Regions from separate parts of the Homo sapiens genome. Here region 1 is linked to region 2. The links come from fine-mapping of genetic effects on gene expression. A gene starts in region 2. The other region holds a variant in brackets. All regions are shown on one strand. Distances are between the middles of the regions.

What was found.
Region 1: its variant is fine-mapped to the expression of AKR1B1 in whole blood (TOPMed, PIP above 0.99).

Annotation. Positions count from the first base shown.
Region 1 is chr7:134,519,775-134,535,585 of GRCh38, reverse strand. It overlaps AKR1B10 (aldo-keto reductase family 1 member B10), which reads right to left and starts at 8,019. Exons shown (of 10, transcript NM_020299.5): 1 at 7,609-8,019; 2 at 4,776-4,943; 3 at 3,562-3,678; 4 at 2,505-2,582. The coding sequence starts at 7,674. The variant C/T (reference allele first, on the strand shown) is at 3,910.
Region 2 is chr7:134,451,611-134,467,421 of GRCh38, reverse strand. AKR1B1 (aldo-keto reductase family 1 member B) reads left to right here and starts at 8,322. Exons shown (of 10, transcript NM_001628.4): 1 at 8,322-8,425; 2 at 15,669-15,811. The coding sequence starts at 8,360. RefSeq lists an enhancer at 3,757-4,257 and a silencer at 8,523-8,712.

The DNA of each region.
Region 1 (15,811 bases), 68 kb before region 2:
GACAGAAAAGAGGGAAAAAACATGAGCATATGACACAGGAAGGCAGGAGCAAAGCTCAGAGGCAGGGATAAGCACGACATGTTCAGGGAACACTTTATCCAGCCCTTCTCAACTTTGGCTGCAATTTGGAATCACCAGGGAGCTTTAAAAAATACTGGCTGGATGCAGTGGCTCATGACTGTAATCTCAGCACTTTGGGAGGTGACAGGAGGATTGGAACAGGGGTTTTGGGCCTAGGTTTGAGTAACCTAGGGTAAGTTTTTTAACTCTTGTAGGCCTTAGCTTTCTCTTCTTAAAAAAAGTCTTATAATACCTACTAATAATATATATGTTTCTGATATATATTACCAGAGGCTGAGACAGGAGGATTGCTTGAGGCCAGGTGTTGGAGACCATCCTGGGCAACATAGCAAGACCCTGTCTCTACAAAAAGAAATTTTTTTAATTAGCTGGATGTGGCGGCATGTGCCTTTGATTCCAGCTACTTGGGAGGATTGCTTCAGCCCAGGAGTCCGAGGCTGCACTAAACTATGATGATGCCATTGTACTCCAGCCTGGGCAACAGAGAGAGACTCTCTCTAAATTAAAAAAAAAAATTACCAGTGCCTGGATTTCACCCCCCAGAGTTTCTTACAGATTTTCTCTGAGTTGTAGCCTAGACGTTGGGATTTTTAAACTCCTCAGGTGATTCTAATGCATAGCCACGTTGAGAACCACTAGGATATATGATGTTATCCAAATTGGGCAGTAGAATTTAGAAGCTGTGAAATCATTAGGTTTCCCAAAATTTCAGATGGGGCAATTAGATAATTTAAAAGTTTTTGTGCACATAGGTCAGGTTAGTTTTCCTGTATTAGAACTTGACTTCTTTATACATTTTTCCTCCTCTCTGCTTCAATGTGGTCAGTGAGGTTTCTACTGAACTGGTTGTGGGTCTACATAAACATCCAACGCTTACATATTCAAGCCTGCTCATTTCAAATCAGAGCCTCTGATCTTGATCACTGCTATCTTTTCATGCCTTTCAAATGTTTTATTTAGCAGTCGTTCTTGTATTCATTCAAAAAACAGCACTGCGAGAAGCAGGCTACATTGACATACTTGCCATACTTCATGGCATCATAAGAGTTAAGATAAAAAAATCTTATCATATGTAATGCAAATAGCCAGGTGTGGTGGCTCACACCTGTAATCTGAGCACTTTGGGAGGCCAAGACAGGTGGATCCCTTGAGGTCAGGACTTCGAGACCAGACTGGCCAACATGGTGAAACCCCATCTCTACTAAAAATACAAAAATTAGCCAGGCGTGGTGGCATGCACCTCTAGTCCCAGCGACTCAGGAGGCTGAGGCAGGAGAATGGCTTTTACTTGGTAGAGGGACGTTGCAGTGAGCCAAGATTGTGCCACTGCACTCCAGCCTGGGTGACAGAGTGAGAGTGTCTAAGACAATAAAAACAACAAAAAGCTGTGCTTGTGGATTAATGCTTTTGAACAAACAATACACAGAAAAAGCTACATTTCATTGAATCATGTCAATTATAAGCATTTCAGAAAGTTGAAACATAATATATTTTTGCTTGTAAAACACAATACAAACTCGCAACTACATGCACACCTACACAGACAGCTACCAAAATAACACGATTAACTCTTGGAGTCATAAGCCACTGTTCATTTATAACTTATTCCTCCACTTCATTCTCTACTAGCATTTGCAAAAGGGTATAAATAATAAAAAATGACCAGAGAAAATGTTCATCCCTTCATTCATTTTGAATGTGAATGACGTGAAACAGGTCATGGTTAGATCTGAGAAGCAGAGCACTCAGGCTCCCTGATTTCTGGATGTGTCTTCACTGCCTGCCAAGCACCATGCTGATGGCTTTGGTGGTTGGACTTGTGATTCAGATGAGTCTGGGTCTAATCCCAGCTCTGCCACACACATTGTGACAAGACCTGGGCAAGTCATCAAACAATCTAGGTTTCAAATGTCATTATTTATAAATGGGGATGTTAACCCTGTCTCCTAGGGTTAAATGGGCTTTATGACTAATGTTCCTGGCATGTAAACCATCTTAATCTTTATCACACACTGGAAGATATATATTGGTAGTATGTATTATACAACTTCTTTTTAAGAAGAGAAAACTGAGCCCTACATGAGTTACAAAACTGACCCTAGGTTACTCAGCTGCTATGAGCACACCCAGGCCCAAACCTCCTGTTCCAAATGCCTCGCCCTGGTTTGAGAACAGCATGTGTATTCCCCAAAGTGGGGTACATTGTATTTCCAGTCTTATTTGAAGACTATTAGCCTTGAAATATAAATAGTATCAGATGTACCCAAAAGCCAAAGGTGATGAGGAAGATATTAGAAGAGCTAGAAAATCACAATGATGAAATTAGAAAGCATCAGGCACATGGCCTCATTCATATCCATGCGAATCTCATGGATAACTGAAGATTTCTCTCCCAGCACACTTAGAGGAAGCTGGGAACCTACCTCCCAGGCATCCAAGAACGTTGCTTTTCCACCGATGGCATTACCTTTATCATCTTTGGGGAAAAGGTCATCCCCAGACTGTGAACACAGAATGAAAAGTTTACTGGAATCTGCATCAGGACACTTGGTTCTGTTCAACAAGGTTTCAGGATCCTGACTCTTGCTAAATACCACATCTGCATACCACTTTTTCAAGTTCTGGAGTACATACTTTAGGAATGTGAGTTTAATTAAAATCTCTGTATCTACTGTAGCATACTAATATTTTAGAAACGACTGGCTTGACTTTAAGATTTGCTGCTAGTACATTCCAGAAGTTCATTATCACCATGGACATTAACCTCATACACCTAGATCCCATATACAACCAAGGGCAAACTTTCATTTCAATATTACTGGATAAGGATTAGATATCCAAGCTGTGGTTTTCTGGAGAAGATATTGGCCAACTTCTATCCTTGCAGCCTCTAGAAGAGGCGTGGAATTAGGGGTGGCAGGCCATCATCACTCCAGTTGGTCAGGAGGGGAGAGAGCTGGAAATTTGTCTCTCCCACCCCTCAGGAGCAGGTAAGAGCAGAGCCCCAGGCAATGGGTGCCTGGATCACTACTGGCTTCCTTCCAGCATCACCATACTTGGGCTTTTCTCCAAGATGCCACTCCCAGGTGTACTTTGCTTAATAAGATAATTATGCCCTGGAATATAGTTATGCAAGAGTAACCCAAGAGATTTCCTGGGAGGGCAACCCTGGGGCGTGGAATCAAGACAAAGGTGATATGGCAGTTGCAACTTGTCTGGGCTGCCAGAAATCATGTCTTCTCTCAGACATAACTGCAAGAAAACCCAGGCATGTGGCCACCTCAGCAGCACACATGGCCTCAACCTCCCTTCCAGGCCAGTGTGTTTCTTCTCCAAGGTCTCTTCCTGACCACCTGCCATTCCCAATTATGAAATGCAAGGCCTCCTGCCCCAGTCCACACCACCCCACAGCCCTGGTGCAGCTACTATTTTCTGGCACCTGCTCAGAAACTAGAGGCTGAGAAAGAGAGTGTCTTAAACCTTGAATCCCTGTGGCCAGTGAATAAGATAGACGTCCAGATAGCTCAGCTTCAGGTCCTTGAGGGTCTTCTCAAAGGCTTTCCTCACAAGGGGTCTCTCAAAGAAAGTGGGCCACAACTGCAAAGAGTGTAGCAATGAGCTATTAATACTGGGAAAAGGAAGGGCCACATTGTACTCATTGTCCCTGCTTTTTGATTTGCATCCTCATCTAACCCACCACAAGCCATTTGTAACAAAGCTGATTAAGATCCACGACACAGTGTGGAACATCACCAGGGCTCAGCACCTCAATGACATGTCTTAAGTGTTAAAAGCAATTGACTTTTTCAACTGTCCTAGTACTCTATA[C/T]GTGTCTCAGATCATTGAAGTAAATGTGGCCACAGATTTGAAATTTGTTTACCTGTCTCAGTCTCTTCCTCAGCTGTAGGCTCTCTGAGAGCAGGAATTGTGTGTAGCTTTTAAATGTCAAGCATTCTTAGGCCTTTGGGAGCAGATGGTCCTTTATCTGACCTATCTGATAGGTCCCTTATCAAGCCTATAAGGCCCCAAGTGATAATTTTACAAAGGCTTTATCCAGACTTGGCTGCTACACAGTGAGGTCTATTTGTCCTACCAGATGTATGCATTTTCCAAGTACCTAGAACTAGTGTTATTTTTTTTCAGCAAGTTATGTATAATATAGATCCAGTGATTCTCAGCCCTCTCACACCCAACATCTTCTTCTTTTTTATAACATTGTATCCCTCACCTTTTACTAGAATGAATAAAGAAATTCATATGTGACAATAGAAAAATGCCCCTACCATTTTCTAAAATTCCCCCTGGCTGAGAGTCTCAGGGGCACAGTCACTGAGATCACAGTGCTGAAAGGGAGGCTTCAGATCAAGACCCGCCTGCACCCTTGGCCTCTGATTGCCTCTGGGCAGATGGTAGATCCCTCTGATGGGGAACAGGGAGGCCCAGGGCAGTGCAGGGTTCCATGGAACCAAGCCCACTATGGGAAAACCAACCTACAGGCAGGTGGGGCAGCCACGACATGTTCAAATATCAATAATGGCTTGGAGTATGGATAGTGTTGTATTCACGGATGTTATCAAGGCAGAGATGAAAAGGGGTACATGTAGAAAAGGCTGACAGAGTTCTTGCTGCCAACCCGACCCAGATACTTCTGCCTGCCTTGAAGTGAAGGCCTCCCACCAAATGCACCATTGCACCTTGCTGACGATGAACAGGTCCTCCCGCTTCACAGCCTTCTCTTGGATCTTCTCTTGGATGGCTTCCCCCACTTCATGTTCATTCTGATAGACATAGGCACAGTCAATGTGCCGATATCCTGCATCAATGGCCACCTTCACTGCTTCTTTCACTTTGCCAAGAGGAGACTGAAAGGCAAAAGAAAAGCTCATCACATATGTGTTTTTTTTAAGAGATGGGGCCCTGCCGTGTTGCCCAGGCTGGCCTCACACTCCCAGGTTCAAGCAACCCTCCCACCTCCCGAGTAGCTGGAATTACACCACTCTCAGCAACCATCATATTCTCTTATCCCCAGGCCACCTTCAACAGGCTGCCCCACAAGGCCCAGTTTCTCCAAACCAAGGCCTCACTGGGGTCTCCTTTGCCAGGGGATCTCTGGGAGGATACACACTTTACAAAACTTTTCAAAAGAAAAGAAGGAAAGTGAATTATTTTATGATTATGTCCTTATGTCCTATCCTAGCTAAAAGTCAGTTCCCTTTTCATCCAGGTTAGTCCTGAAATGTCTTCAGGTGTGTGGGGGTGCAGACCGCTCCACTACAACTTTCTGAAGACCCAGATGAAAGCTTGACTCTAAATAACCCCAAGGGATTTTCAGACAATTTCCCCAAATGGTGATAAGGATCTGGATAATGGTCATTACACCATCAATCTGGATTCGATCACTTACTGGGTGTGTGGGTCTAAGCAGGTGATTCAATCTCTGTAAACCTTGTATGCAAAATGGAAAAAAAAATAGCACCAGCCTCATGAGGCCTTTGTGGTGATGAGATGCTGCAATGAATATTAAGCTTTTTGCACATTACCTGACACACAGTAAGGTTCAGTAGAGGCCATCATTATACAATGATCGTTTCAGAAAAAAAAGAGAAATAGAAAACCTTATAGGAATAGAGTTTGTTTTCCACTCCTGTAAAAAGAAAGAGAGAGGGAGGGGAATGACAGAGAGGGAGAGAAAGAAGGGAAGGAAAGAAAAGAAAAGAAAGAAAAAAAGAAAAGAAGGGAAATAGAATTATCACATTTTGTTCTAACCTAGCCAAGCCAATGATGGGGGCAAAAAAGCACTTAAAACTTGATCTCTCACAAAATGGTCTTTTAAACCTCTTCAATTGTGAGATAACAAACATTGAACAGTACACAAAACAGAGATGCACAGCTACCCTACCACCTGGACAAGAAACGAGCTGCTGCCAGGCACCCAGAAGCAGCCCTGTGCCCCCAACCGCTACGCTACACCCTTCTTCACCTCCACTGCTAAGTTCATAATCCTTTAGTCTATCATCCCCACGTGTTGAAGACAGCTCCCTTCATAATTCTTTCATTCAATTCCAAAATTATGAAACTGTCTGGTAAACTCACCCAGGGTGAGTAGATTCCCTGGAGATCTGGAAGTGATTATTTATTCTGTTTATACAGGATTGAAGGTCTGATTTTGGGCAAATCTTGCTATTCAAGCAAGAGACGCTCTGCATGAATCAAGCTGGAAGTGATCTGTTCCTCCAGATACACCAAGAATGTATCCTGAGGATGACCCAGTGCTGCAGCAGAGGGTCCTAACCTCTAGCTTGGGACAGAAGAGAAGAAAAATCAGGGTGCACAGAAGGAAAGAGAGCCAGAGGCAGAAGTCTCAGCAGGGACATTAGCCATGAGGGACAGGAGAGAAGAGGAACTCCAAAGACTGCTTCTCATCACTAGTTAGGGTAGTGCTATCATGGATGGAAATGGCAAAGAAGGCAGAGGGAGGTGGTGATGGAACAACTTGAAACTTAGCCTAACAGAGGCTCGGGAACCTGCCTCACTGAGTCCTGGATGTGCCTTACCACATTTTGCCAGCTGTCGTTAACACAGCCGGGTGGTGCTCACGACTCCCAGCCCAGGCTCTCTGCAGCCCCAGCATGTTGCAGATTTCAATGTGTACAGGAACCACGTAGGGATCTTGTTAAAGTGCAGATGCCCATTAGGTAGCCTGGGTTGGAGCCTGAGACTCTGCATTTTGTTTCTCTCTGTCTCTCTTTCTTTCTCTCTCTCTCTTTCTCTCTTTCTTGCTTTCTTGGATCTCACTCTGTTGCCCAGACTGGAGTGCAGTGGCACAATCACTGCTCATTGCAGCCTTGACCCCTCAGGCTCAACACTCAATCTCCACCTCAGCCTCCCAAGTGGCTGGGACTACAGGTGCGTGCCACCATGCCCAGAAAATTTATTTATTTTTTGTAGAAATGGATTCTTGCCATGTTGCCCAGGCTGGTCTCCAACTCCTGGGCTCAAGCAACCCTCCCGTCTGGATTTCCCAAAGTGCTGGGATTACAGGGATAAGCCACCACACCTGGCCAGTTTGCATTTCTAGCAAGTTTCCAGGTCATAGGGATGCTGCTAGCCCAAGTCTCACACCGTGATCTGCAAAGGGGTGCCAAGGACTTCGGGCTCTGCATCCTCTCCTCAACCACCCAGCCCACAACAAACCCACAGCCAAGACTTGGGGGAAACGTTGAGCCCAATTAAGTGTCCTAGAACCAGAGAGAGAAACTGCCCTGGAAAACAGTTTTAAGTCCAACAGCTGCTTGAAATTTGATACTTGCTAGAGAAGCTCTCATCACTGCTGGGAAAGCCAGCCTTGGAGCTTTGCAGCCTGAATCAGCTCTGAGAAAAGAAAGCAACCTAAGTCCTGGCTCCAGGGCTGAATCTTACCTCTCCAACCCCTGCCCGACCTCCAGGCTTTCCTGGCTGAATGCAGAAAGAGAAAACACCCAAACGCCCCTCCAGAGAAGAAGGGTGTGCAAAGATTTGCATATTTACCTTCCAAGTGCCCAGGCCCACAATGGGCATCTTGGCTTTGGTACTGAGCTCCACAAACGTGGCCATGGTTGGTGCAGAAATGATTCTGAGTGAGCAGGTAGAAGTCTCACGTCCTGCTCTCTGTTGCTGTTTTTGAGACAGTCTTGCACTGTTGCCAAGGCTAGAGTGCAGTGGTGCGATCTCAGCTCACTACAACCTCTGTCTCCTGGGTTCAAGCAATTCTCCTGCCTCAGCCTCCCGAGTAGCTGGGATTACAGGCGCCCACCGTGACTCCCAGCTAATTTTTATATTGTTAGTAGAGACAGGCTGGTCTCAAACTCCTGAGCTCAGGTGATCCGCCCACCTCGGCCTTCCAAAGTGCTGGGATTACAGGTGTGAGCTACTGTGCCCGGCCACAGGCTGCTTAAGAAGGCTGCTGCTATCTACAGTGGGAGGAGTTGGAGCCTGGCCACAGTAGCTTCCCTGCCATAACCAAACAGGAAATCCATTCCAGGCTTTTGTGAGATTGAGGATTCTGTGAATGAATTATTAAACATGGCAACCTTGTGCAAAGTTCTCTCTTAGGTGACAGTATCATTGGAGTTTCTGCTTGTTCAGGATGAGTCAACAAATTCAACACAGCCAAAAGTTGGAAGGTAGGGAGGGAGACAGCAAGGAAGAAAAGAAGAGTTGGAGGAGGGAGGGAAAGAAGTCTGGCCAACATAGTGAAACCCTGCCTCTACTAAAAATACAAAAATTAGCCGGGCGTGGGGGCACGTATCTGCAATCCCAGCTACTTGGGAGGCTGAGAAAGGAGAATCACTTGAACCTGGGAGGCGGAGGTTGCAATGAGCCTAGATCATGCCACTGCACTCCAGCCTGGGCGACAGACAGTGAGACCCTGTCTCAAAAAAAAGAAAGAAAGAAGGGAAGGCAGGAAGGAAGAAAGGAAAGAAGGAAGGAAGGAAGGAAGGAAGGAAGGAGGGAGGGAGGGAGGGAGGGAGGAAGGAAAGAAAGAAGGAAGGAGAGAAAGAAAGCAAAGCAAAGAAGGAAGAAAAAACAAGGGCTTGCTTTCCCTGTGATGGTTTCCTCTGTGAAATAGAGTCTAGGGAGGAGAGGTGAGAAGCAGCGTTTCAATTTTAAAAGTTGCAATTGCAGGTTCAGTGCAGAGATGGTCAAATCCCGACCTGATTGGAGTCAGCTGTAACTAGTTGGTAGTCAGCAATCTAGGGAACATGATATAGGCCTGTGCCATGCTGTGACACGCCATGACAGGCCAGGGCCACGTCACAGCATCTGTTTCAGCCTGCCGGTAGTGGGTTTTTCTGTCTTTTACATGTTCTTGTTGATGAGTTGGCTTTGGTTGAATCTTGAAATGGAATTGAATCTCTAGGCTGTGGCTTATGACAGCTCATAGAAGGCAATTGGCATGATATTTTGCAACTATGAGTGAAAAATCTTATACTTCATTGATGTTTGTTAAATTATCTACTTCAACATTAATAATAATGCATGGGCCGGGCATGGTGTCTCACACCTGTAATCCCAGCACTTTGGGAGGCCGAGGCAGGTAGATCACTTGAGCTTAGGGGTTTGAGACCAGCCTGGCCAACATGGTGAAACCCTGTCTCTGCTAAAAATCCAAAAATTAGCGAGGCATGATGGCACGTACCTATAGTCCCCGCTGCTTGGGAGGCCTGAGAATCCCTTGAACCTGGGAGGTGGAGAATGCAGTGAGCCAAGATGGTGCCACTGCACTATAGCCTGGGCGACAGAGACAGACTCTGTCCCAAAAATAAATAATTAAATACATGCATTCCTCATAATCTGGTGGCCACAAAGTCTCCTGGATATGCACTTGCGGCACTTTATTTTCCCAGTGTATACTGGATGACATGCAGTGCTAGTATTGTTGAAATAGTAAATCCTTAGTGACTGTCAACCTAAATAACAGAGAGAGGGTCCCTACAAGAAAAATATTTCTCTGGGAATAGAGCACTGCAATGGGAATATGCATGCCACAGTAAACTATGTGTATATTTGGGGAAATAAAGGAAGACAAAACTTTTCAAGGAAAAAATGAGGATTATCTAATTGCTTTGAAATAATTAGCCTTGGCTCCAAAGATCAATCATGAAAGTGGTGTTAGTCTGAGGTTGGACACGCAGTTGTTCAGAGGTCCTTGCAGAGTATGTTTTGTGTTCAGTTGCAATGGCCTTTGCTCAAGGTTGTGGTTTTCACCGTCTTTCATGGTACTTTTGGTTTTCAGGTGTACAACCATTAGAACCCTCTTTTCATGGTCTTCCCAGCTGTATTTGTCAGAGTCTTCTGTTTGTTTTTTAACATTAGTGACTCCATTTTGATTCTGACCATTTTCATGTGATGCACAGAATAAAGAAATGTGTATTGTTCATAATAACATTCCTTCCAGAACCACTTAGCTATGAATCAGTGAGAAGGGATATCTTTTTTAGATAATTGAGATTAAGAAGGTATATTGATTAGCTGTTTTCGTGTAACAAACAAACTGGTTATTACAGCAACCATTTATTTGCTTGTGATTTTGTGGGTTGGCAATTTGGGCAGGAATCAGCTGATAAGCCGGTCTCAGAACCACGTGGTGTCTGTCAGCTGGGTTTTCTCACCTCTGTGGGCTTCACTGGGGTGGACTGGGATGTCAGGGAAGGCAGGGACCCTTTTTATGTGTTTTTCATTTTCCATGAGGCTAACTTGGGCTTGTTCATAGGTAGCAGCATTGTAGGAGGCCTACCCTTGGAATGTGTGCAGTGTCACTTCTGTCACCTTCTATTGATCAAAGCAAGTCTCAAGGCCAGGACGGGGCCAAGGAGTAGGGAAATAGATTTCACCTCTTGAGGGGATTTGTTACACAGAATTATGGCTATTCTTAATCAACCCCAGAAGTTTTCATAAGAGTTTTGATTAGCTACTTTCTAGCTTCATGAATTTACCAATCTATTCCTGGTTTTGTACCCTTAAGAAACTCTCATTTTTTAAATCTGATGAATATATGTGCATAAGAAGTTTTACTTTGTTAAAATTAAGTACATACAAAATTGAGACAAAATTATTTTTAGAAGGAAAATGAACGAGTAGTGCCGCTTTTCATTCTCATCCATTTCTCTAAGAAACAGAGGAAGCAGCAACTAATATATCTGAAACAGGGAGGAAAAAGAACAATTCCAAGAATTGTGGGAGTGCAGAGAAGTTTCTGGGCAGAACAGTGTGAGCCAAGGGGTGGAAGCGACTAAGATACATTGGAAGAACGGGAGGAAGCCAGTGTGGGGACGCTCAGAGAGTAGACTTACAGGGTGCCCAGCAGAGTTAAAGCTAGACTGATATGCAGGTACCAGAGGGTCAGGAGCTGCAAAGCTGTGATCATGGAGTTGGATTTACCATGAAGGTAACAAAACTTGACCTTCAGTTGCCTTCACTTGCATGAGCACCATCTTAGGCTTTGTACCTAACATTGAATTCTTAATTTTGTATTCTTTAAAAGAAAACCCCGATCGTACAACTTCAGGATCACAAAATCTGAATCCCCTGTGCATGTTAACATTTTTTATTTTATTTGAGAGCACCAAAGTTTTGTTTTTTAATTTTTCAAAAATCTTTTTATTATGAAATATTTTGAAAATATGCAAAACTACACGTCCCCACCTTCTCTCCTTGTGCTGTATTTGTTAGCTGGGTGTGGTGGCTCACACCACCTGTAATCCCAGCTCTTTGGGAGGCTGAGGCAGGAGGACTACTTGAGGCCAGAAGCAACATAGCGAGACCCTGTCTCTATGAAAAATACAAGAAACAATTAGCTGGGCATGGTGACACATGCCCGTAGTCTCAGCCACTCAGGAGGCTGAGGCCAGATGGTTGCTTGAGCCCGGGAGTCTGGATGACATAGTAAGACACTGTCTCAAAAAAAAAAAAAAAAGAAAAGAAAGGAAAAAAAAAGCCAAAAAACAAAACAAAACAAACAAACAAAAAATCACTTTCTCTCTATAGTTTCCCGCCCTCTGGATTCTGCTGATTATTGCATTCCCAGAAATGTATTTATCATGTCACTCTATCCCCCAAATATCTTGGCAACACTAATAAGACCTAGAGGCTTGATAAAATCCAGATCCAATTCTTGTTTTGTTTTGTTTTTTGGCTACTTCCTATACATTGTATTCTTCTATTCCGGTGGAATGACTGGCTGCCTCTTTATTTGTATTTATTTATTTGTATTATTTACAGTAGTCATTGATGATCATTACTTAAATCCATTATTTCATAACATTACAAAACAGTGAAATACTAATTATACCATTCTTTCTTCATGTATTAGCTGGCATACTTCTTTAAGGAGAAATTTCTCCTAATCAATTATTTGGCTACCCTGAGGTATAGTTTGAATAGGAACACTGAATAATGATTGATTCATTCTTTTATTTTAGTTTTTAAAAGGAGGTTTCCAAGCACCCTCCAAGGTGACAGATTAGTTGTCATTTAGTGTTCTTTGAATTCATGAATTTAAATATATTCAATGTTATAATCTATTGCTATTCTTATTGATGCCCAAATTATCCTCTTTGCCACTGAGAGCACTTCAAATTGGCTTTTGCATTCTTTTCATGTAATCTTTATAGCCTTTGGTAACTTCATTGCTTTCCTGTTCCAGACCTACATTTATCCAAGGAGATTTCCTTTTAGTGGAAATTGATATTTAGAAACCACAATTAGGGAACTAGAATCATTCTTTGCAATTGAATTGAATCTTGCTTCCAGGCCTTTTCAGTAGAAAGAGGTAGGAAATACCTTTTAAAAAACCTACCATGTATTTTTAGTAATACAAGAAACAATTAGCTGGGCAAGGTGGTGCATGCCTGTAATCCCAGCTACTCAGGAGGCTGAGGCAGGAGAATCACTTGAACCTGGGAGGCGGAGGTTGCAGTGAGCGGAGATTGCACCATTGCACTCGTGCCTGGGCAATAAGAGTGAAACTCCATCTCAAAAAAAAAACAAAAACCAAAACAAAACAAAAAAAAACACGACTTCAAATGGACATTTCTGATTCAAGTTAAGAACTTCAAGGCTTAATCTCACCTGTCTTATGTTTCTTCATTCTCTCACACTGAATATCTCACTTCCCAAAGATACAAACGTAATTGCTAATTTGCTTGATTTCACAATGTACATGCAATAGTACTAAAAATACAACACAGCCTACACACTGTAATTACTAAAAACAATTTTAAAGTATTGAAAACAGTTTAAGAGCCATTAGGCTTATTTATTCTGTGAACCCCGAAAATTTGAGACAGGTCTCAGTTAATTTAGAAAGTTTATTTTGCCAAGGTTGAGGACACACGCCTGCGACACAGCCTTAGGAGGTCATGATGACGTGTGCCCAAGATAGTCAGAGCACAGCCTGGTTTTATACATTTTAGGGAGTCATGAGACATCAATTAACATATGTAAGATGAACATTGGTTCCATCCAGAAAAGCTGGACAACTCGAAGCAGGGAGGGGGCTTCCAGATCATAGATAAAGAGACAAATGGCTGCATTCTTTTGAGTTTCTGATTAGCCTCTCCAAAAGAGGCAATCACATATGCATTTATCTCAGTGAGCAGAGGGGTGACTTTGTTTGTTTGTTTGAGATGAAGTTTCGCTCTTGTTGCTCAAGCTGGAGTGCAATGGTGCAATCTCAGCTTCCTGCAACCTCCGCCTCCTGGGTTCAAGCAATTCTCCTGCCTCAGCATCCCAAGTAGCTGGGATTACAGGCATGTGCCACCAAGCCTGGCTAATTTTTTGTATTTAGTAGAGACGGGGTTTCACCCTGTTGGTCAGGCTGGTCTCGAACTCCTGACCTCAGGTAATCCATCCGCCTTGGCCTCCCAAAGTGCTGGGATTACAGATGTGAGCCACCGCACCGGGCCCAGAGGGGTGACTTTGAATAGAATGGGAGGCAGGTTTGTCTTAGCAGTTCCCAGCTTGACATTTCCCTTTAGTTTAGTGATTTCAGGGGCCTAAGGTATGTATTTTTTTACAATTCTATTTTGGTTTTAAATTCCAGGGGTTCTTTTTCAAGTGTTTTGTTTTAGAATTATGTTCCAAAGCCAAATATGCATAGTTTCAAATTCAAATATACAAATCAGGTTATTTTCAGAGCAGTCTGCTTTTTACCCCTGTCAGAATACTGAATACAAAAAGGCAATGGAGAAATTTTTTCTTAAGTATTGAAGAAAAATAACTTTAAACTCAGAATTTTCTATCCAGCCAAACTGCCATTTAAATGGGAGAATATAATAATATTCATACACATGAAATCCTCAGAAAATGTATCTTACAATGACTCACGGTCATTAAAATGTTTATGCTTTATATCCTGTGATCATAAGTTTCTGGGGGTTAGAAAAATTTTCTTCTGAATCAAGTTATCATTAAAATTAGTATTTATGCAACAATAATTTTTAAGCATAAATTCTTAAATTTTTGATAAACCATTAAACATCTATTATAAAATTCCACTGGAACTGTATCTCTATGTAACATAAATGGAGATTTTTTAAAAAATTAATTTATATCCACCTGTGCTGTAAGAGTTAATTTCAGCAGGCCTGGATTAGCCTGATACATTTTATTAAAATAAATAAAGGCACCTCCCTGGCATGAGATATGAACCATAATGATTAACAGTGTTTCTTTACGACTTTGGGTCTGGGGAGTTGCGTGGCAGTTTATATCAGTTTTGTTGTTGATAACATTGAAATTGGTGATGTGCACCTCAGTATAAACTCTTACAGGGCTCTGTCCTTCTTTCTGCTTGTGTAGCAAGAAAACTCTGATGTAGCCAGAAAGATTAGATTCCACTTTTGACCCTTTAGTTCCAATGGATTCTGTACATATATTAGTGGTTCTGATTCAAGAATGTCCTGGTACAACCCTTAAAGAAAGGAAGAAAACTTGGAGCCCAGACCAGCTCCTCCAGACCCTTTGCTGGAGACAGCCTTTGACTAGTATGAATAGTCTCACTTCTAGGCTGTTTCTCTATTGTTTTCTTTTCCTGTAGTCACCTGTAGATTTCTAAGCCTTGCCATTTTGGATCCTGTGAGCCTTGCTTAGTGTTTGAATCCCATCTAGCTGTGGAACCCAAAGCCTTTTACAAACGTAAAGGCGGCCTGGGATGGAAAGGAAACGCTTCTTTTACTTCTTTAAATATATATATATATACTTTAAGTTCTGGGATACATGTGCAGAACGTGCAGGTTTGTTACATAGGTATACACATGCCATGGTGGTTTGCTGCACCCATCAACCCGTCATCTACATTAGGTATTTCTCCCAATGCTATCCCTCCCCTAGCTCCCCAGCCCCCAGCAGGCCCCGGTGTGTGATATTCCCCTCCCTGTGTCCATGTGTTCTCATTGTTCAACTTCTTTTACTTCTATTGGATGCAAGAGCACACTGTATATTACTTTCTAACTCTGGTAACGAGCTGTTTGGGGTGATAGAATTCATTTAGGGAGACCTGGGGATGTGACTGTGGAGAGAATGCAAATTAAACTCTGATTAATATCAGAATATATGATAAAATCCATGGAACAGTGGTATTTCTGTTATCTGAAAATGTAACTGGTATGGATATAATCTCTGAAAGGAAATTCCTCCCCCTACTGGGTAAGATTTAAAAAATAACTTGTAGATTTGTTTTTGTTCGGTATTAATTGGACATGGAAACTGGGAGCCTTGAGAGTTGCCTAAGCCAACTCAAATAGTAAATTTGAAACAATATCAACAATCAACAAGAAATGACAGCCCTAACTAGGGAAATATTAGACGCACATGTGTTAGCGTACACAAACACCATGTACAATAGCCTGGCATGGTCAGTAAGGAAGGCTGACAGTTCATGGCATGGCAGTTCACTTCACAATAGAATAGAGGAAAAGCAAAACTGTGTCCCCAACAGGTCCAGACTCTTCTACTGATACAACAAAGTAAAAACAACTGGCAATTGATCTGTAATTAATATGGCTAATTCACCTCTCTCCATATCAGTCACGAAGGTGAGCCAACAATTTTCTCTGATGTAGAATGATCGCCCTCATGCGTTTACTGTACTACTTCAAAAATATTTCAACTCTCCCATGTATTTTCTTTCTTTCTTTCTTTCTTTCTTTTTTTTTTTTGAGACAGAGTCTCGCTCTGTTGCCCAAGCTGG
Region 2 (15,811 bases):
TCCAGTGTCTAGATTAAGGAGAAGAGGTAATTCCTGAGTGGCTCAGAGTCTGGAAAGGGTGGAGGCTCCAAGACAAAAGTTCAGCCACACACGATTTCAAAGGGACTATAAAAAGAGGATGCCTTTTGTGTTGCGTGGAGTCTCATGAGGGTGAAAAGGAGGTTTTTTGTACATGACTGGCAGGTTTCTAGAGCCGGCTTGGTGAGTTGGGCTTTAAGGACAGAGTTAACTTTTTCAATTTTGCCTGAAGATTGAGGCCTGTAGGGTGTGTGGAGAACCCATTTTATACCTAAGGATGTAGAGATGCCTTGGGTGATTTGACTGATGAAGGTGGGCCTGTTATTGGACTGGATGGATGTTGGGAGTCTGAAACAGGGAATTATATGCATGATGAGGGTTTGTGTGATGATATTTGCACCTTCTGAAGTTGTCGGGAATGCTTCTACCCACCCGGAGAAAGTACAGACAAAGACTAGAAGATAGCAGAGCCATTTTTTGGGCAGCATGTGAGTGAAGTCTACTTGCCATTCTTGCCTGGGTACCTGGCCTCGGGCTTGTTATTGATTTCTAGTTTTATTCCATTGTGGTCAGAGAAGAAAGTTGATATAATTTCAGTTTTATTTATTTATTTATATGTTTGTTTGTTTTATAGTAACGGGGTCTCATTCTGTCACCCAGGCTGGTTGGAGTACAGTGATGCAATCATAGTTCACTGCAGCCTTGAACTCCTGGGCTCAAGTGATCCTCCTACCTCAGCCTCCTGAGTAGCTGGGACCACAAGAATGTGCCATCAGCCCCAGCTAATTTTTTTTCTTTTTGGTAGAGACAGGATCTTACTATTTTGCCTAGGCTGGTCTTGAACTCCTGGGCTCAAGCAATCCTCCTGCCTTAGCCTCCCAAAGTGATGGGATGACAGGCCTGAAGCACTGCACCTGGCCTTCAAAAATTTTTAGAATCTTATTTTGTGTCCTAACATATGGTCAATACTGGAGAATGTTCCATGTCCTGACAAAAGTAATGTGTATTCTGCAACTGTTGGGTAAAATATTCTGTAAATATTTGTTAGGTCTACTGAGTCTATAGTGCGATTTAAATTTGATGTTGCTTAATTGTTTTTCTGTCTAGATGAATCTGTCCAATACCAAGAGTGGAGTTTGGAAATCCTCAGCTATCACTCTATTGGAGTATATCTCTACCTTTCAATCTAATAATGTTTGCTTTATGTATCTAGGTGTTTCAGTGTTAGGTGCACATACATTTCAATTGTTATATTCTTTTGCTAAATTGATTCCTTTATTATTACATAATATCTATTTTTCTTTTTAGCTTTTTATTTGAATTCTGTTTTGTCTGATATATCTACTCCTGCTCATTTTTTTGTTTCCTTTTGAGTAGAGTATCTTTTTCAATCACTTTCTATGTGCATCTTTGCAGGTTAAAAGAGTTTCTTGTAGGAAGCATATAGTTGTGTCCTCTTTCTTTTAATTAACTCAGCTAGTCTATATCTCTTAAATGAGAAATTTAATCCATTTACATTCAAGGTTATTATTGATAGTTGAGGACTTACTCCTGTCATTATTAATCATTTTCTGGTTGTTTTGTATGTCCTTTGTTCTTTATTTCCTCCCTTATTATTTATTTTTGTGGTTGCGTGGTTTTATGTAGAGATAGGTTTGACTTCCCTTTTTCCTTTGTGTATTGGCCCTACCAATGAGTTTTATAGTTTTACGTGTTTTCACGATGGTGATTAGGGTCTTTTCACCTCTAGATGTATGACTCCCTTGAGCATTTTTGCAAGGCTGGTCTAGTGGTGATGAATTCCGTTAATTTTTGCTTGCCTGTGAAAGATTTTATTTCTTCTTCATTTCCAAAATACGGATTTGCTGGGTATAATATTTTTGAGTGGTCGTTTTTTCTTTCAGTATTTTGAATATATCACCTCTTTTTCTCCTGGCCTGTAAATTTCTGCTGAGAAATCCACTGTTAGTCTAGTGGGGATTGTGTTATAAGTCATTTGATGCTTTTCTCTTGCTGTTTTTAGAATTATTTCTTTGCCTTTGCCTTTTGACAATTTGACTATAATATGCCTCAGAAGAGGCATATCAACCTGTTTGGGTTGACTCTATTTGTGATTCTTTGAGCTTTCTGAATCAGGATATCAGTCTCTCTCCCAACATTTGGGAAGTTTTCAGGTATTATTTTATTAAATATGCTTTTTTTTTTTGAGATGGAGTTTCACTCTGTTGCCCAGGCAAGTGCAGTAGCATGATCTCAGCTCATTGCAACCTCTACTTCCCAGGTTCAAGTGATTCTCCTGCCTCAGCCTCCCAAGTAGCTGGGATTACGGGTGCCCACCATCATGCCCGGTTAATTTTTGTATTTTTAGTAGAGACAGGGTTTCACTATGTTGGCCAGGCTGGTCTCAAACTCCTGACCTCAAGAAATCTACCTGCCTTGGCCTCCCAAAGTGCTGGGATTACAGGCACGAGCCACTGTGCCTGGACTTATTTCATTAAATAAGTTTTCTATATCATTTCCTTTATACTCTCCTTCTGTAATACCATAATGCAAATATTTGTTTGCTTAATGGTGCTTCATAACTCCTGTATGCCTCCTTTTTTCTTTTTATCTTTTTTGTTGGTTTGCTTGTTTTATTTCAAATGACCTATCTTTTAAGTTCAGAAATTCTTTCTTCTGCTTGATCTCATCTGTCATTGAAGCTCTCAGTTGTATTTTTATTTTATTCATTGAATTCTTTAGCTCTAGGATTTCTGTTTGGTTCTTATCATTGTTGAATTTCTTATTCAAATCATGAATTGTTTTCCTAATTTTGTTGAGTTTTCTATCTTTATTCTTTTTTATTTCATTGAGTTTCTTTAAGATTATTATTTTGAATTCTTTTCCTGGCATTTTGAGTATTTCCTTATTATTGCAATTTGTTACTGGAGAATTACTGTGTTCCTTTGGAAGTATTATGTTTCCTTGCTTCTTCTTGTTTGATGTGTCCCTACACTGATTTCTACACATCTGGTGGAACAGTCACTCCTTCCAATTTCATGGAGTAGGTTTTATATGGAAAGACTTATTCTCATAGATCGGTCTTGGGGAGTAGCTTCAGGGCAGTGCGTTGGCTTTGTTTCTAGGTGCATGCAGTAGTGTAGCATCTGCATAGTTTCTTCAACTATAATCTATCCTTGCAATGTTTATGAGTATCTCGGTGTCCTAGGCTGAGAGATTTTGTGGCAGTGGCAGTGCAGCTTTGCCATGGTGGTCTTGCCAGGCCTTTCTCATGTCTGAGTGCATGTGTGGCCACATTGGGTTGGCCAACTTTGGGTCTGGCTCTCTGTGATTTAGTGCCATGGGGCTGTTTCCCAAGCCTGGGGGTCAGGTGTGTGGCTGCTTTGATGGCCCGCCTGCTTGCCTTCTAAGGATTGCCTATGGGGCTATCTCCCAGGCCCAAGATATGAGTGCATGGCTGCTTGGCTGCCTGGAAGTGTGTTTGCCAGGGCAATCCACAAGGCCATTTCTCAGGTATGGGATGCAGCCACACACCTTCTTGGCTGGCCTGGGTGCATGTCTGCTGGGGGTGGCCAACAGGGCTGTTTCTCAAGCGTTGACTGCACATGCAGGTCCTTTGGGCAGGTCAGCAGCATGTCCATGGTAGGGGTGTGGTCCCATGCTGCTACTGTGTCTTAGGCCCTGGGCATGGGCACACAGCTGCTCTGTGGGCCCAGTGGCATGTCAGCTGTTAGGTGGATCAAGGACCTCTCTCACTTGGGAGAGGGTGTGCAGCAGTTTAGCTGGCTTAAGGGTAGGCTCTCCTCAGACAAGACTTCCAGAGTCTTCCTCCAACTGTAAAACCAGACAGTGTAGGTTGGTTTCACTGCTGTGCAGGACCAGAGTCACAGGCAATTCTGGGCCCAGAATCCATGCAGCTGGAGTTGTGGGATTCAGCCACCTATGGGCTTCACACAGCTACTCAGTCAGCTTCTCAAGTTTCTCCAAGCCCTGGTTGTGAATGCGAGGCAATCCAAGGGTGTGTTCATGGAGGGAGTAGGTGCTACAGGCCTGTTTTTCAGGCCCTGTACATCTGCATATGGCCACTCTGCTGGCCTGGGGGCAGGCATGTCAGCTGTTTGATGGGCTAGGGACCTCTCCTGCTTGAGGGAGGACACACAGCCATTTGGCTGGCTTAAAGGAAGGTTCACCCTGGGTGAGACTGTCAGACTGTTCCTCCAGCTGTATTGCAGATGACAGGGGTTGGTTTCACTGTGGTGCAGGACCAGAGTCATAGCCAATCCTGGGCCCAGTCTTTGTGCAGTTGGCCCACATGTGGGCTTGGTGGAATGAAGATGGAGCCCCAGTGCTGGAGAAGTGCAATGGCTACGGCCCCCAGAGCAAGGCACAGTCCAGAAATGGCTCTAATCTCAAGATGGCGCCATGCTGCAGCAGCTTGGCTCACTAAGGGAAGGGTGTGTACACACCCTGTGCTCCTAATCCGGAGTGATACAGCTATATGGATTCCCAGAAGCTCTTCAAACTGGGCACGGGGCTTGCAAGGACTGTGGGATTATTTTGTAATGAGGACTGGAGTCATTTACAGTGGCAATGGAGACTGGTGAGGTTCTTTTACCTTCTCCCTAAAAGGGGACTTCCCTCCTGTCTCTGGGCTGATGCAATTGTGGCAGGCAAGATGGGGCTACAGAGGCCATGTGCCTCCATGGTACTCTCTTGGGCTTCCAATCACTACAAGTACCCCTTTACTCCCCCATTGCACTTTAATGCTCTTTTTTCATAATTGCAGTTAAATATTAGCGGTTTATTTATTCCCTTGGTCCTTTCTTATGGTGGGGACAAGAACTAGGCATTTCTAGTCAGCCTTCTTCCTGACGTCACTCATTCCAAAATTCTTAGTGTGAGTCACAGTTTAAAAATTTGAAAGCTACTGGTAGTGGTTAAGAGTTTGAGTGCTATAGTCAAATTCCTAGGTTTAAATATTGACCCTAACATTTACTTAATGTGAGATCTTAGCAATTTTTCTCACTTCTCTGCATCTCAGTTTCTTCACGTGTAACATGGATTGATCATAGTATCCATGAAAGGGGTGGTTATGAAGATTAAATGATTTAATGTACATAACTCAATAGATATATAAGCAGCAGCAGCAGCACCTTCATATAACATATGCCAAGTGCTGAACCATAATACAGTGTCCAAACCATAATAAAGACTCAGTAGTGGTTTGTCGTTGTGGAAGAGACTTCTGTTGCTCACCATACCCATTCACTTCTGTTTTCTGGCATACAGGAGGATGACACTTCCCCATCCCATTGAAGATAGGCCTGGCTGGGCTCTACCACCAGATCTGGTTAAAGGATTATAGGTAGAAGTGATGTGTGCCACTTCCAGGACTGAGCAATTGATTGCTCATTTGAGACTCTTAGGTTCTCTTTTGCCTTCCTAAGCCAAACCCTGAAACCTTGGGTTGGGACAGCAGGGAAACAATGTGGTGGGACCTCCATAGCTTGAGTCCCTGAGTGACAATGTGAACAGAGCCTACTGTCACCCTCAGCTCCACCAGCTTGTGTTGGACATGTAGCATATAACCTTTGTTTGTTTATAGAAGCTTTATTGATGTATAATTTACGTACCATATGATTTACCTTTTTAAATATGCAATTGGGTGGTTTTTTTGTATATTCAAACTTGTACCAGATCTCGCAGGGCCTTGAATGCCAGGCTCAAGAGTTTAGGTTTTATCCTATGGGAATTGGACAGTTCATAAGAAGTTGTCTTTTAATTCAAAATGTGTTCATTAAGGAAATAATCTGACAAAGAGTATTCCCCATTTCCTTCTGTCTTCTTCCTAAATTTCCTAAATGTTATAGGTTGTATTTTCCTTCTTAGCATCATTCCATAGCTATATGACTTTGTTTTCTACTTTCACCTTAACATTACCTCATATACATTTTTCTCTGTGTCTTTGTCATCTTTACTTTTGATGGCTACACCTTATCTCTTGCTATTGTTGGATATTTACAGTTTTACTTTAAGTATACAGCATTTTAAAAATACATACGCATATGTGTATATCTGTGTGCAGGCCTGGGACTAAGGGAAGGCAAGTGCCAAGGACATAAATGTAAAAAAGCTCCTACCTTCTGGCATGAAAATTTGTACCTGTGTACCTCATTTGTCTTACCTTGGTCCCAGCCCAGCCCTATACCTAGTGTGTGTGTGTGTGTGTGTGTGTGTGTGTGTGTGTGTGTGTGTGTGTGTTTTCCTTTTAAATTATTTCCTTAGGAAAAATTCCCATGATGGGAGATTACTGGTTCAGAGCATGTTAAGATTCCAATTACTAGAGTGTTTCTCAGGAGGATTCCATTGAAGGTTTTTTTCCCTTTTTCAAACAAAATTTTGATATGTATACTTATCAAAAGATGGGAGATCAAAAATCTTGAGATCAAAAATTTTGGTATGTGTACATTTTACAAAGATTACAGAGGCAATGGGGGATGTTAGGGGGCTATCACAATAGCATGTCCCAACTAGAGTGCTATTGTTGCTATAGAAATTCCACTGATACAACTTTTCATGTCTGCATGGCCCAGCCAAAATATTCTGGGTTTATTTATTTATTTTACAGACAGGGTCTTGCTATGTTGTCCAGGCTGGTCTCTAACTCCTGGGCTCAAGCAGTCATCCCACCTCAGCCTCCTGAGAAGCTGAGACTACAGGTATCACTCCAGCTTTAGACACAGTTATAACTTCATGCAATCAAGCTGTATACTCAATTATTATCAAACCAACAACAAAGCCTCTGATATTGAGTCCATGTCCCTAACAGACGACCCTTCTGTGTGTACCAACCTGGCCACTCAAGGTGTATCATTTTCACAAGAGATTAGCTCTTTGGATTTGGACCCAGGAGGTTCAATTGGCAGAGCAACCTCCAAGTCAAGAGGACTCTCATGGAGGAAGGAACTTGCTGTTTTACACAAAGCAAGTTCCCAGCTTTAGGCTCAAGTTCAAATTCTATTACTTGGGGACAAATGAATTTGCCCAATAGCAACAATTTTTACAAAAGTTACATGGAAAAATATCTGGGCTAGTCTGTTCTGTATAAATTTTTCCAGGAGGGAGCACTTTTAAAGAAAGCACCAAATGGAAAATCACCGGCATGGAGTTTAGAGAGACCTGGTGCTTGAGTCACTACCAGGCAGATGGAGTTCCCAATCTTGCATAATTAGGGGAAAGATCGGAGGGTGATGGAGCAGAAAGAGCAGTTGGGGTGAGGTAGAGTATCATGAAGAGAGGTTGTTGGAAAGAAACCAAAATTGTCTTCAAGGATCTTCAAGTGACTTTTCTTAGGCTATCTTGGAAAAATGTGTGTTTCTACCTGCCAATTAGGGTGATCAATTTACTATTTTGTACCTTCTAATTTGAAATACTGGAAGCTACAATATTAGAGTCAACTTTTTCTTCTGTGGTTTTCTGTCTGTTCACTTTTCTTCCTCTAGAGAGTTTTGATAAGTTACTGTACTGGAACTTACTGCTTTGATAGAGTCTCACTTTCCAAAGACTGATGAAATTTGTCTTACTGATTCTGAATGGACAGCCTTACTTTCCAAATTCTTCTGAGAGTTCTGGATCAAGCCCATCAAGGCTTTCTAACCTCAAGAACATCAAAGGATGCTGGCTTTTGGTGGAAGGCTTGCTGAACCACACCTAGTATGCACAGACACAGCTAACACCTAGAGTGGGGTGCAAAGAGAGATCTAGAAGGCTACAAAAAGTCTGGGCAAACCCATATTTTGTGAAGGTGCTTTGCAAAAGGATTGCAAGCCATTTTTCTGGCATGCACCTTTGTCTAAGAACAAAGTGCGGTAAACTATATGTGTAGTCAGTATGATTCACATAGATTAAGGACAAGGTATTCGTCAGATTCCCAAAGAGCATCAAACTGGGGTTGGACAACAAAGGCATTCTTCTGGGCTCTTAATGAAACCAAAACTTATTTCTAGTCTATGTATTTATGGGATGCCTGTTATTTTCGCTAAAGCATTCGCTTTCCCACCAGATACAGCAGCTGAGGAACTCCTTTCTGCCACGCGGGGCGCGGGCGAGCGTTGGGGGCGGAAAGAATCCGCTGCCACTAGGACCAGGCGGAAGAAGCATCCCCGCCGACCCTTGGGGAAGGCCGCCGCGGCACCCCCAGCGCAACCAATCAGAAGGCTCCTTCGCGCAGCGGCGCGCCAACCGCAGGCGCCCTTTCTGCCGACCTCACGGGCTATTTAAAGGTACGCGCCGCGGCCAAGGCCGCACCGTACTGGGCGGGGGTCTGGGGAGCGCAGCAGCCATGGCAAGCCGTCTCCTGCTCAACAACGGCGCCAAGATGCCCATCCTGGGGTTGGGTACCTGGAAGGTAGGTGCTCGTGGGGGCGCGGGCCCGGGGCTCGCCTCACACTCTCCGCGCGGCCTGTATTGGCGAGGGACCCCGAGTGACCCTGAGCAGCTCGCCCCGCGGACGCCCGGCGTGCTGGGAGCCACGCGCGGGCTTGCAGGGTCCCCAGCGGGCTGGGGTCGGCCTTGCAGAGACCGGGGGCCTTGGCTCCCCGGGTTGGCCCTGGGCGTCAGGGCAGCATCCTGCGAGTGGGGTTTGGGAGCAGCTCACGGGAGCCCCCGCCCTACCGCGGGCAACCCTTGATGGGCGGCCCACCAGTCCGCATTTTGGGTCCTAGCGGGCGCCCCAAGCGGCACAACGCGAGAGGGAGGCGGGGAAAGTGGGCTTCACAGACCGGTGGACCTCGGGCGCAGACAGGGACGTGGAGCCGTCGGCAAGGTGTGGGAGCGCAGACCCAGCCTCCTTTCCCTCGAGGCACCTGTAGCCCGGTTGCCTCACTTGTAAATAGTTGGTCTCAATCGTTTCGATTCTTGCCCTCCCTGAGGAATAAGCATCTCAAGCCGGTAGAGGGCAGAGAATTAGGTGGCGCGAGTTTGCCCGGACCCAGCTGTTAACAAGGCGCAGTGCGGAGCTCCTCGGCCAGGCGCCGCCTCGGGGTGCCCTGGGTCTGGAACTCGGGAGAAAAATCTGGGCACCCCGTAGCTAGTTGATAATTCAGGAGGCGCCAAGGTTAGCATTTTCCCTGTAAAACCTCAACACCACACAGCGTCCCCGAGAAGTGCCTAGCCGGATGAGAATGACAATAGGACATGAAACATCATAGGATATGAAAAATGATAATATGATATGAAAAACCAAAAATAATAGCCTGAGCCTGATTATCTGAAAATTGAGCAACAAAGGTGGTGGTATGGGAGCTGAGGCAAAACCTAGAATTTTTAACCTTCTAAGTATTGCATATTATATTCCACAGCCATAACCTGGGTTTCTCAGTTTCTGTTTTTGTTGTTTGCTTGTTTGTTTGTGACAGGGTCTCGTTGCCCAAGCTGGGGTGCAGTGGCACAATCATGGTTCATTGCAGCCTGGAACTCCTGGGCTCAAGTGATCCTCCTGCCTCAGCACTGCGGGTAGCTGGGACTACAGGCGCTCACCACCACACCTGGCTAATCTTTTTTCTTCCCCGCAGAGACAGTCTCCGCTTGTTGCTTAGGGTGATCTCCAATTCCTGGGCTCAAAGCGCTCCTCCCACCTCGCCTCCCAAAGCTACAGGTGTGAACCATCTGGCAGGCCCACGTCCCAGGTTTTTCTCTTAAAATTTGAATATGGGCCTGGGCGTTGGATATTTACACACAGACAAGGGAAGAAAACAACAGAAAGAACTGAGTGAACTGTGAGATGTTTGAAATAGGACAGAAGAGTTTACATGTACCCTAAAACCTGCTGTTGAAAATTAGTAAATATAAGGTAAGAAAAAGGTCATTTGCATCAGGGAGAGTGTTTCTTGGCCAGAATGATCAGGGTACGTGATTTGTTTCCTCCAAAAACTCCAGTGGTGTCTCTAAGGTTGTAATTGAATTACAACCATGACACCAAGCTAATTTCCATCTGTTGCATGTTATGCTCTTGGAATGGATGCAGAAGGATGCTTTCTTGGCAATAGCAAATACTTTCTAAGCATGATGCAACGCACAGATATATACATGTAACTGGAATAAAAATTACTTAACAGTACTTAACCTATGTAGGCTGCATTTCAATATTTTTTTCTATTCCATTTTTCCAAAAATTATTGTCATACCTCCAGAAGCTAGTTTTGTGACCCATCATTTGAAAATCACTACTCTAGGGTAAATAAGGAGTAAAAGTTTATTTTTTTTTTTTTGAGACAGGGGCTCAGTGTCACCCAGGCTGGAGTGCAGTGGCATGATCATGATTCACTGTAGCCTTAACCTCTTGGGCTCAAGTGGTCCTCATACCTCAGCCTCCCAAGTAGCTGGGACCACAGGTGTGTGCCACCACACTCGGGTAGTTTGTTTTTAATTTTTTGTAGAGACAGGTTTCCCTATGTTGTCCAGGCTGAGGAGTAAAAGTTTATGAAAGAGGGTTTCAGATTATTCACTTGAGCACTCAATGCCCCAAAAAGCTATGTATTTGTTTAAGATAACATCACATCATAACATCTGTACATTTAGGTTATGCATTCCAGTAGACAGAGTTCATTGAGAAATTGGATAATGTCTGCTTCATTCATTACTATTTCTAGCACTTCTCACAGTGCCTGGCAAATATAGGAGTAGGTATCCAAAAGTTATGTGTTGAATTCATATGAAGAAGTAAAACGACTTTAGAGATAGCTGTATGGTGAAAACGCCCACTTGTATTCCTGTGGATGAGGAGATCAGGTTGGTGTAGAATTGTACGGTGGGGGCAGCGGGGAATGGTGGGTCAAAGTAATGGTATAAGGATGGACTTGGAATCAACTTCCTTTTTTTTTTTAATGACTTAAAACCTTTCCCTGGGGCCGGGCGCGGTGGCTCACACCTGTAACCCCAGCACTTTGGGAGGCAGAGGCGGGCAGATCATGAGGTCAGAAGATAGAGACCGTCCTGGCTAACATGGTGAAACCCCGTCTCTACTAAAAATACAAAAAATTAGCCCGGCATCGTGGCACGCACCTGTAGTCCCAGCTACTTGGGAGGCTGAGGCAGGAAAATCGCTTGAACCCCAGATGTGGAGGTTGCAGTGAGCCGAGGTCCCGCCACTGCACTCCAGCCTGGGCGATGGAGCAAGACTCCATCTAAAAAAACAACCAAACAAAAAAACCTTTCCCTTGTATGTGTGTATGTATTCTTTCACAGATGCTCGACAGAAGATGTGATCCTTTGCCTGTCTTTGTGACAGCTGGAGGAGGCCCTGCAGGCAGGTGCAGTTCCTTATTCTCCTGGGTCTTCCCATGCCGTAGCGGCTGTGTTGTACCTTTCAGACCCTCAGCAGGGCTCTGGTAGTCTCTACTCTTGAAGGTCCTCAAACTCCATTCTCTTCTCAGGTGAGGGTTTCAGGCAGATGGGGAGACCATCTCTGCCCCAGACCCATGTGGCTTGGACAGGGTTTCTTTCTGGCAGTCTTGCCTTCTACATTGGATAGTAAACAATTACACCTGTAATCCCAGCACTTTGGAAGGCCAAGGCGGGTGGATCACCTGAGGTCAGGAGTTCGAGACCAGCTGGCCAACATGGTGAAACCCCCTCTCTACTAAAAATACAAAAATTAGCCCGGCATGGTGGTGGGTGCCTGTAATCCCAGCTGCTTGGGAGGCTGAGGCAGGAGAATCACTTGAATCCAGAAGGTAGAGGTTGCCATGATCTGAGATTGTGCCACTGCACTCCAGCCTAGGCGACAAGAGCAAAAAAAAACTCGGTCTCAGAAACAACAACAACAACAAAAACCCATCACAGCATTGTAAAGCCAGGAAGCTTTTAAAACAGAGATGATGTCTGGTGCCCACCAGTGTCTTGTTACTGATAGTGTTTTTAATCTAGTTGAAAAATTGTTGGAGGTAAAAGTCATTGTAAGTCTCCTATGTATGCTCACAGAATACTCCTAGGGCTGAAGGTACAACTATGTTTCTCCATCTTTTGCCATGATCACTACCTCCCTCCCACCTAGGAGCCTTGTGAGACTTTTTTTTCCCCTAATTTGCCCCAAAATAAAATTGTAATATCAGAGATAATATTGTACTTCTGCTTATGGCCAGTAGCCTTCTAGAGGGTCACAAGCTGTTCTATAAGCTGAGGGGGGTTTTTTTGCCCCAGAGAACTAATTTTTGTCTCTTTGGGGACAATAGCACCCACTTTAAGAATGCATGAGGTAAAAGAAAATGTGCCAGGAAAGACTTGCTCCACCTTCCCCAAGTGGGGTAAGCTTGTGATGGCCCAAGATCCTTGGATGGGGTGAGGGTTGAGGCGCTGTGGGCATGGAGGTAACACAGGAGCCAGATTTACTGTTCACTTCCCTGGTGTCTCTAAAGCCCCCATCTCTTCCTCTTCAAGACCAAAGACATTTAAATAAGCCCTGCCCCTACAGGGTCAGTCCTGGTCCATGCACATCTCAACTAGTTGGAAACAGCAGTGTCTTAGAATTTGGGACAAATTGATTAAAACAGAACAGGAGGAAGTTAATTTCTGCTGCCAAACCTGATTCTGAGTGATCGTTTCCTGTTCCTTGCTCCAGGATTATCAGCACAGCATTCTCATGCTTCCTACTCAGGACCGTTTCTTTACCCAAAGTGAAGTTTCCTTTGCCCCCTCCCCTTATCCTTTGATTTCAGTAGTAACACCTGCTAACTAGAGAACATTTCAAAAATGAAGAGTTCCCTGTTCCCAGAGATCCCCGTGGTTAATATTGCAAAATATCCAATCTCTGAGATACTTTGGTTTTACCATAAACACTGTCCTGTGACCGTCTTCCTGTTTAGCACTGTGGCTTGCTTTTTGACTTGCAGAGGGAAGAGAGGGAGGGGTATCTTGAAGTAACTAGCAAGACCTGTAAGCAAAAGGGAAGAAGACTAGGTTTTAAAAGGAGTGTTGTATCTGTGTAGGAGGGAGACACTGATTTTAGTTATCAGTGTCTCAGAGTTGGTATTAGCCAGCCGGTGTTATCAAAGGAGGAACTAGGACCGCTGTCTTGAAGGAGGTGGTGGAGGACTCAAGGGCAGAGGCTTCTCACTGCCATCACTTGGTGCCATCAGCCCAGAGCATTTCAAGTCACTGCCCAACGTAGAGCTTTGCAGAGCCAGAAGTTCTGGGAGGAATGGGCATGCATGGTTTTGCCCATCAAGGGCACACAGATTAGTGGCAGGATCGGGTTAGAAACATGTAGGATTTGTATGATTGAGCTGTAATTGGAGTGTTTCATATACTGCATTTCTACAGCTCTCATCAGTAATGGCTGTGCCTGGATGCCACCCAGCATGTTTTCATAGTTTACCTTCTTTTTAGAAGTCAATCTGGACCCCTCCTTCTGTTTGCATTTTCTCTTTGTTGACATGGAATGGGGAGATGTTGTCATCCTGTGTTGGCATTCCCAAGTTTAGTGAATGGTTTCTCACCATAGCTTAAGTTGGCTGCTTCATTTTTCATAAGGCAAATTAGTTTCTCTCAGGGAAGGGCTGTACATTGAGATCATTAACATAGAATGTGGTTGTGGATCCTCGTACATTTTCATTGCAGAGGTGACTTTTTCCCTCCAGCACCTTTGATCAGCCTCCCAGCACACATGTCTCCAGCGAATGGCACATATCCAAGGAATGATCAGCAGCTTCTTCGTGACCTCTTGCAGTCATTGCTGTCTTTTACTTTTCTAGAAAAACCTCTCACAACTTTTTTTTCATGTCGTGCCAACGCAAGCTTGATTATCCTAGTCTGTGCTCTTTTGGTTCCAAAGAACTGAAAAACCACTTTAATCTTAAGCAGGAAAAAAAAAAGTGTGTTTGGGGTGGGGATTGATTGACTTCCCCAAACAACAGCCGCTGACATTAGGTGTTTGAGATTCAGGGTTGTAAATGTTGTCACCAGGATTTGGCCTCCCTCCACTTTCCTGCAGCAGCTCCAGGCTGACATTCTCCCAGCTCAGTGACCCCAGCAGAACCGGGGCTGGACTCAGGGGTTCCAATTCAAGTGCAAAGATTGAGTCTTATGGCCTGGATTGAGTCATGTTCCTGTCCCCGCACCAGTTGCATGGCAGGCAGTGCGTGGCTAGGCTGAGCCTGCGGAGTGTGCCCTCAGCAGCTCCTCAGAGAAAAATCAATCAAGGCGCCATCAAGCCTGGAGAAAGTTCAGTGTGTCCTGGGCAGTTTCCTGCCTGGGCCCCAGTTGTTCTTTCTGGGGTAGGGATGTCCTCTGCTCTCCCTGCTGTCATCAGTGGTGGTTGTGCCCGGACACCACTCAGGGCCTGTGGTAAGGCATTCTTTCTGGAAATTGAGATTCTCTGTTCCTTCAACCGTGCAGAGTGGGGAAGGCTGCAAGAGCAGCTTCTGAGGTCCTCCAGTCAAATAAGAGGTCGCCAGGTCCTCTGAGGGTCGTCCCCTCTTAACCCACACCTTCGATGAGCATCCCCACCCTGCCTCGCTGCTCCCTCTGAGGTGGAGAGTGAGCTCCATGCTAACAGGCTCTGGTAACGGGCTTGTTCAACTGGGCCCCTTTCTTCCCCAAAGCCTGTTGAAAATAGCTGATGTCAAAACACAGATGTCTGCAGCTGCTATGGCCCTGGGGGGTTTTTCTTTTCATTTGTTTCTACCCCAGCTCTCCAAAGGAATGTGCTCTGTTCATTCAACAGCCCGCTGCACATGTTTATTGCTCAGCTCTGTGATCATAGCAGGATAGTGAAAGTTGGGGGATACGTGTCCATGCAGCCTACCTGGGTGCCAGTGAAGCGCGATGCCATGTAGGCACTTCCTCCTCCTCTTCAGTAGCCAGGCTCCCCACAGCTGTTCTGGTTACTCAGATGGTCAGGTGGCTTGGCCATGGACACCCATTCAGTCATTTTGCCAGGTCAGCCACTAACCATTTGGTGATCTTCCATGATCCACATTCCCCCTCGTTTCCCTTTAACTTATTTCTCTCTGCTGATACCTCTGAGGGGCCATCTCCCGTGTCTCCACCCCTTGAAGCAGATCCTCATACAGTGAGAATTGACACATGGGCCTTTGAATAAACATCAGTGATGTGCTTAACTTCATGATAATCTCCCAGAACCGCTTGAAAACAAGCGACTGCCGGTATCAGAAGCCATGCATGAAAAGAGAGCGTAAGGGGCAGGCATTCACTGGCTGAACTGGGGAGCCACATGGGAATTGGGGTCCATAGGACATCTATTTTTGAAATATTTTGAGATATTTGAAGGAAATGGTTTCCCTTACTATCTCAGCATTCAGAGTGTGGGGAAATGTTTTTAATACAGTGGTTTGCAAATCAGTGGATGTGAAGAAGCAAGAAAATGAGATGGCTTCAGCATATCTTTTAAAAGTGATCTCACCTACACTTAAGTGGCTGTCAGATTCTCCTACAGGGCAATGCTGTGTGGCCTTTCACTTCCATCCCCCGCGTCTGAGGCTGATAGTCCAGAATGCTGCTGAGGAAGTGCACGTGGTCTGTCTTTGCTGAACAAAGTGGCAGGCTGGTCAGCAGGTATCGGTGGCTGCCACTGCCCCTCCTCCTTGCTGTGCAGACTCTGCATTCTGCGGGGCTCACGTTCTTTCTCCTTTCAGTCCCCTCCAGGGCAGGTGACTGAGGCCGTGAAGGTGGCCATTGACGTCGGGTACCGCCACATCGACTGTGCCCATGTGTACCAGAATGAGAATGAGGTGGGGGTGGCCATTCAGGAGAAGCTCAGGGAGCAGGTGGTGAAGCG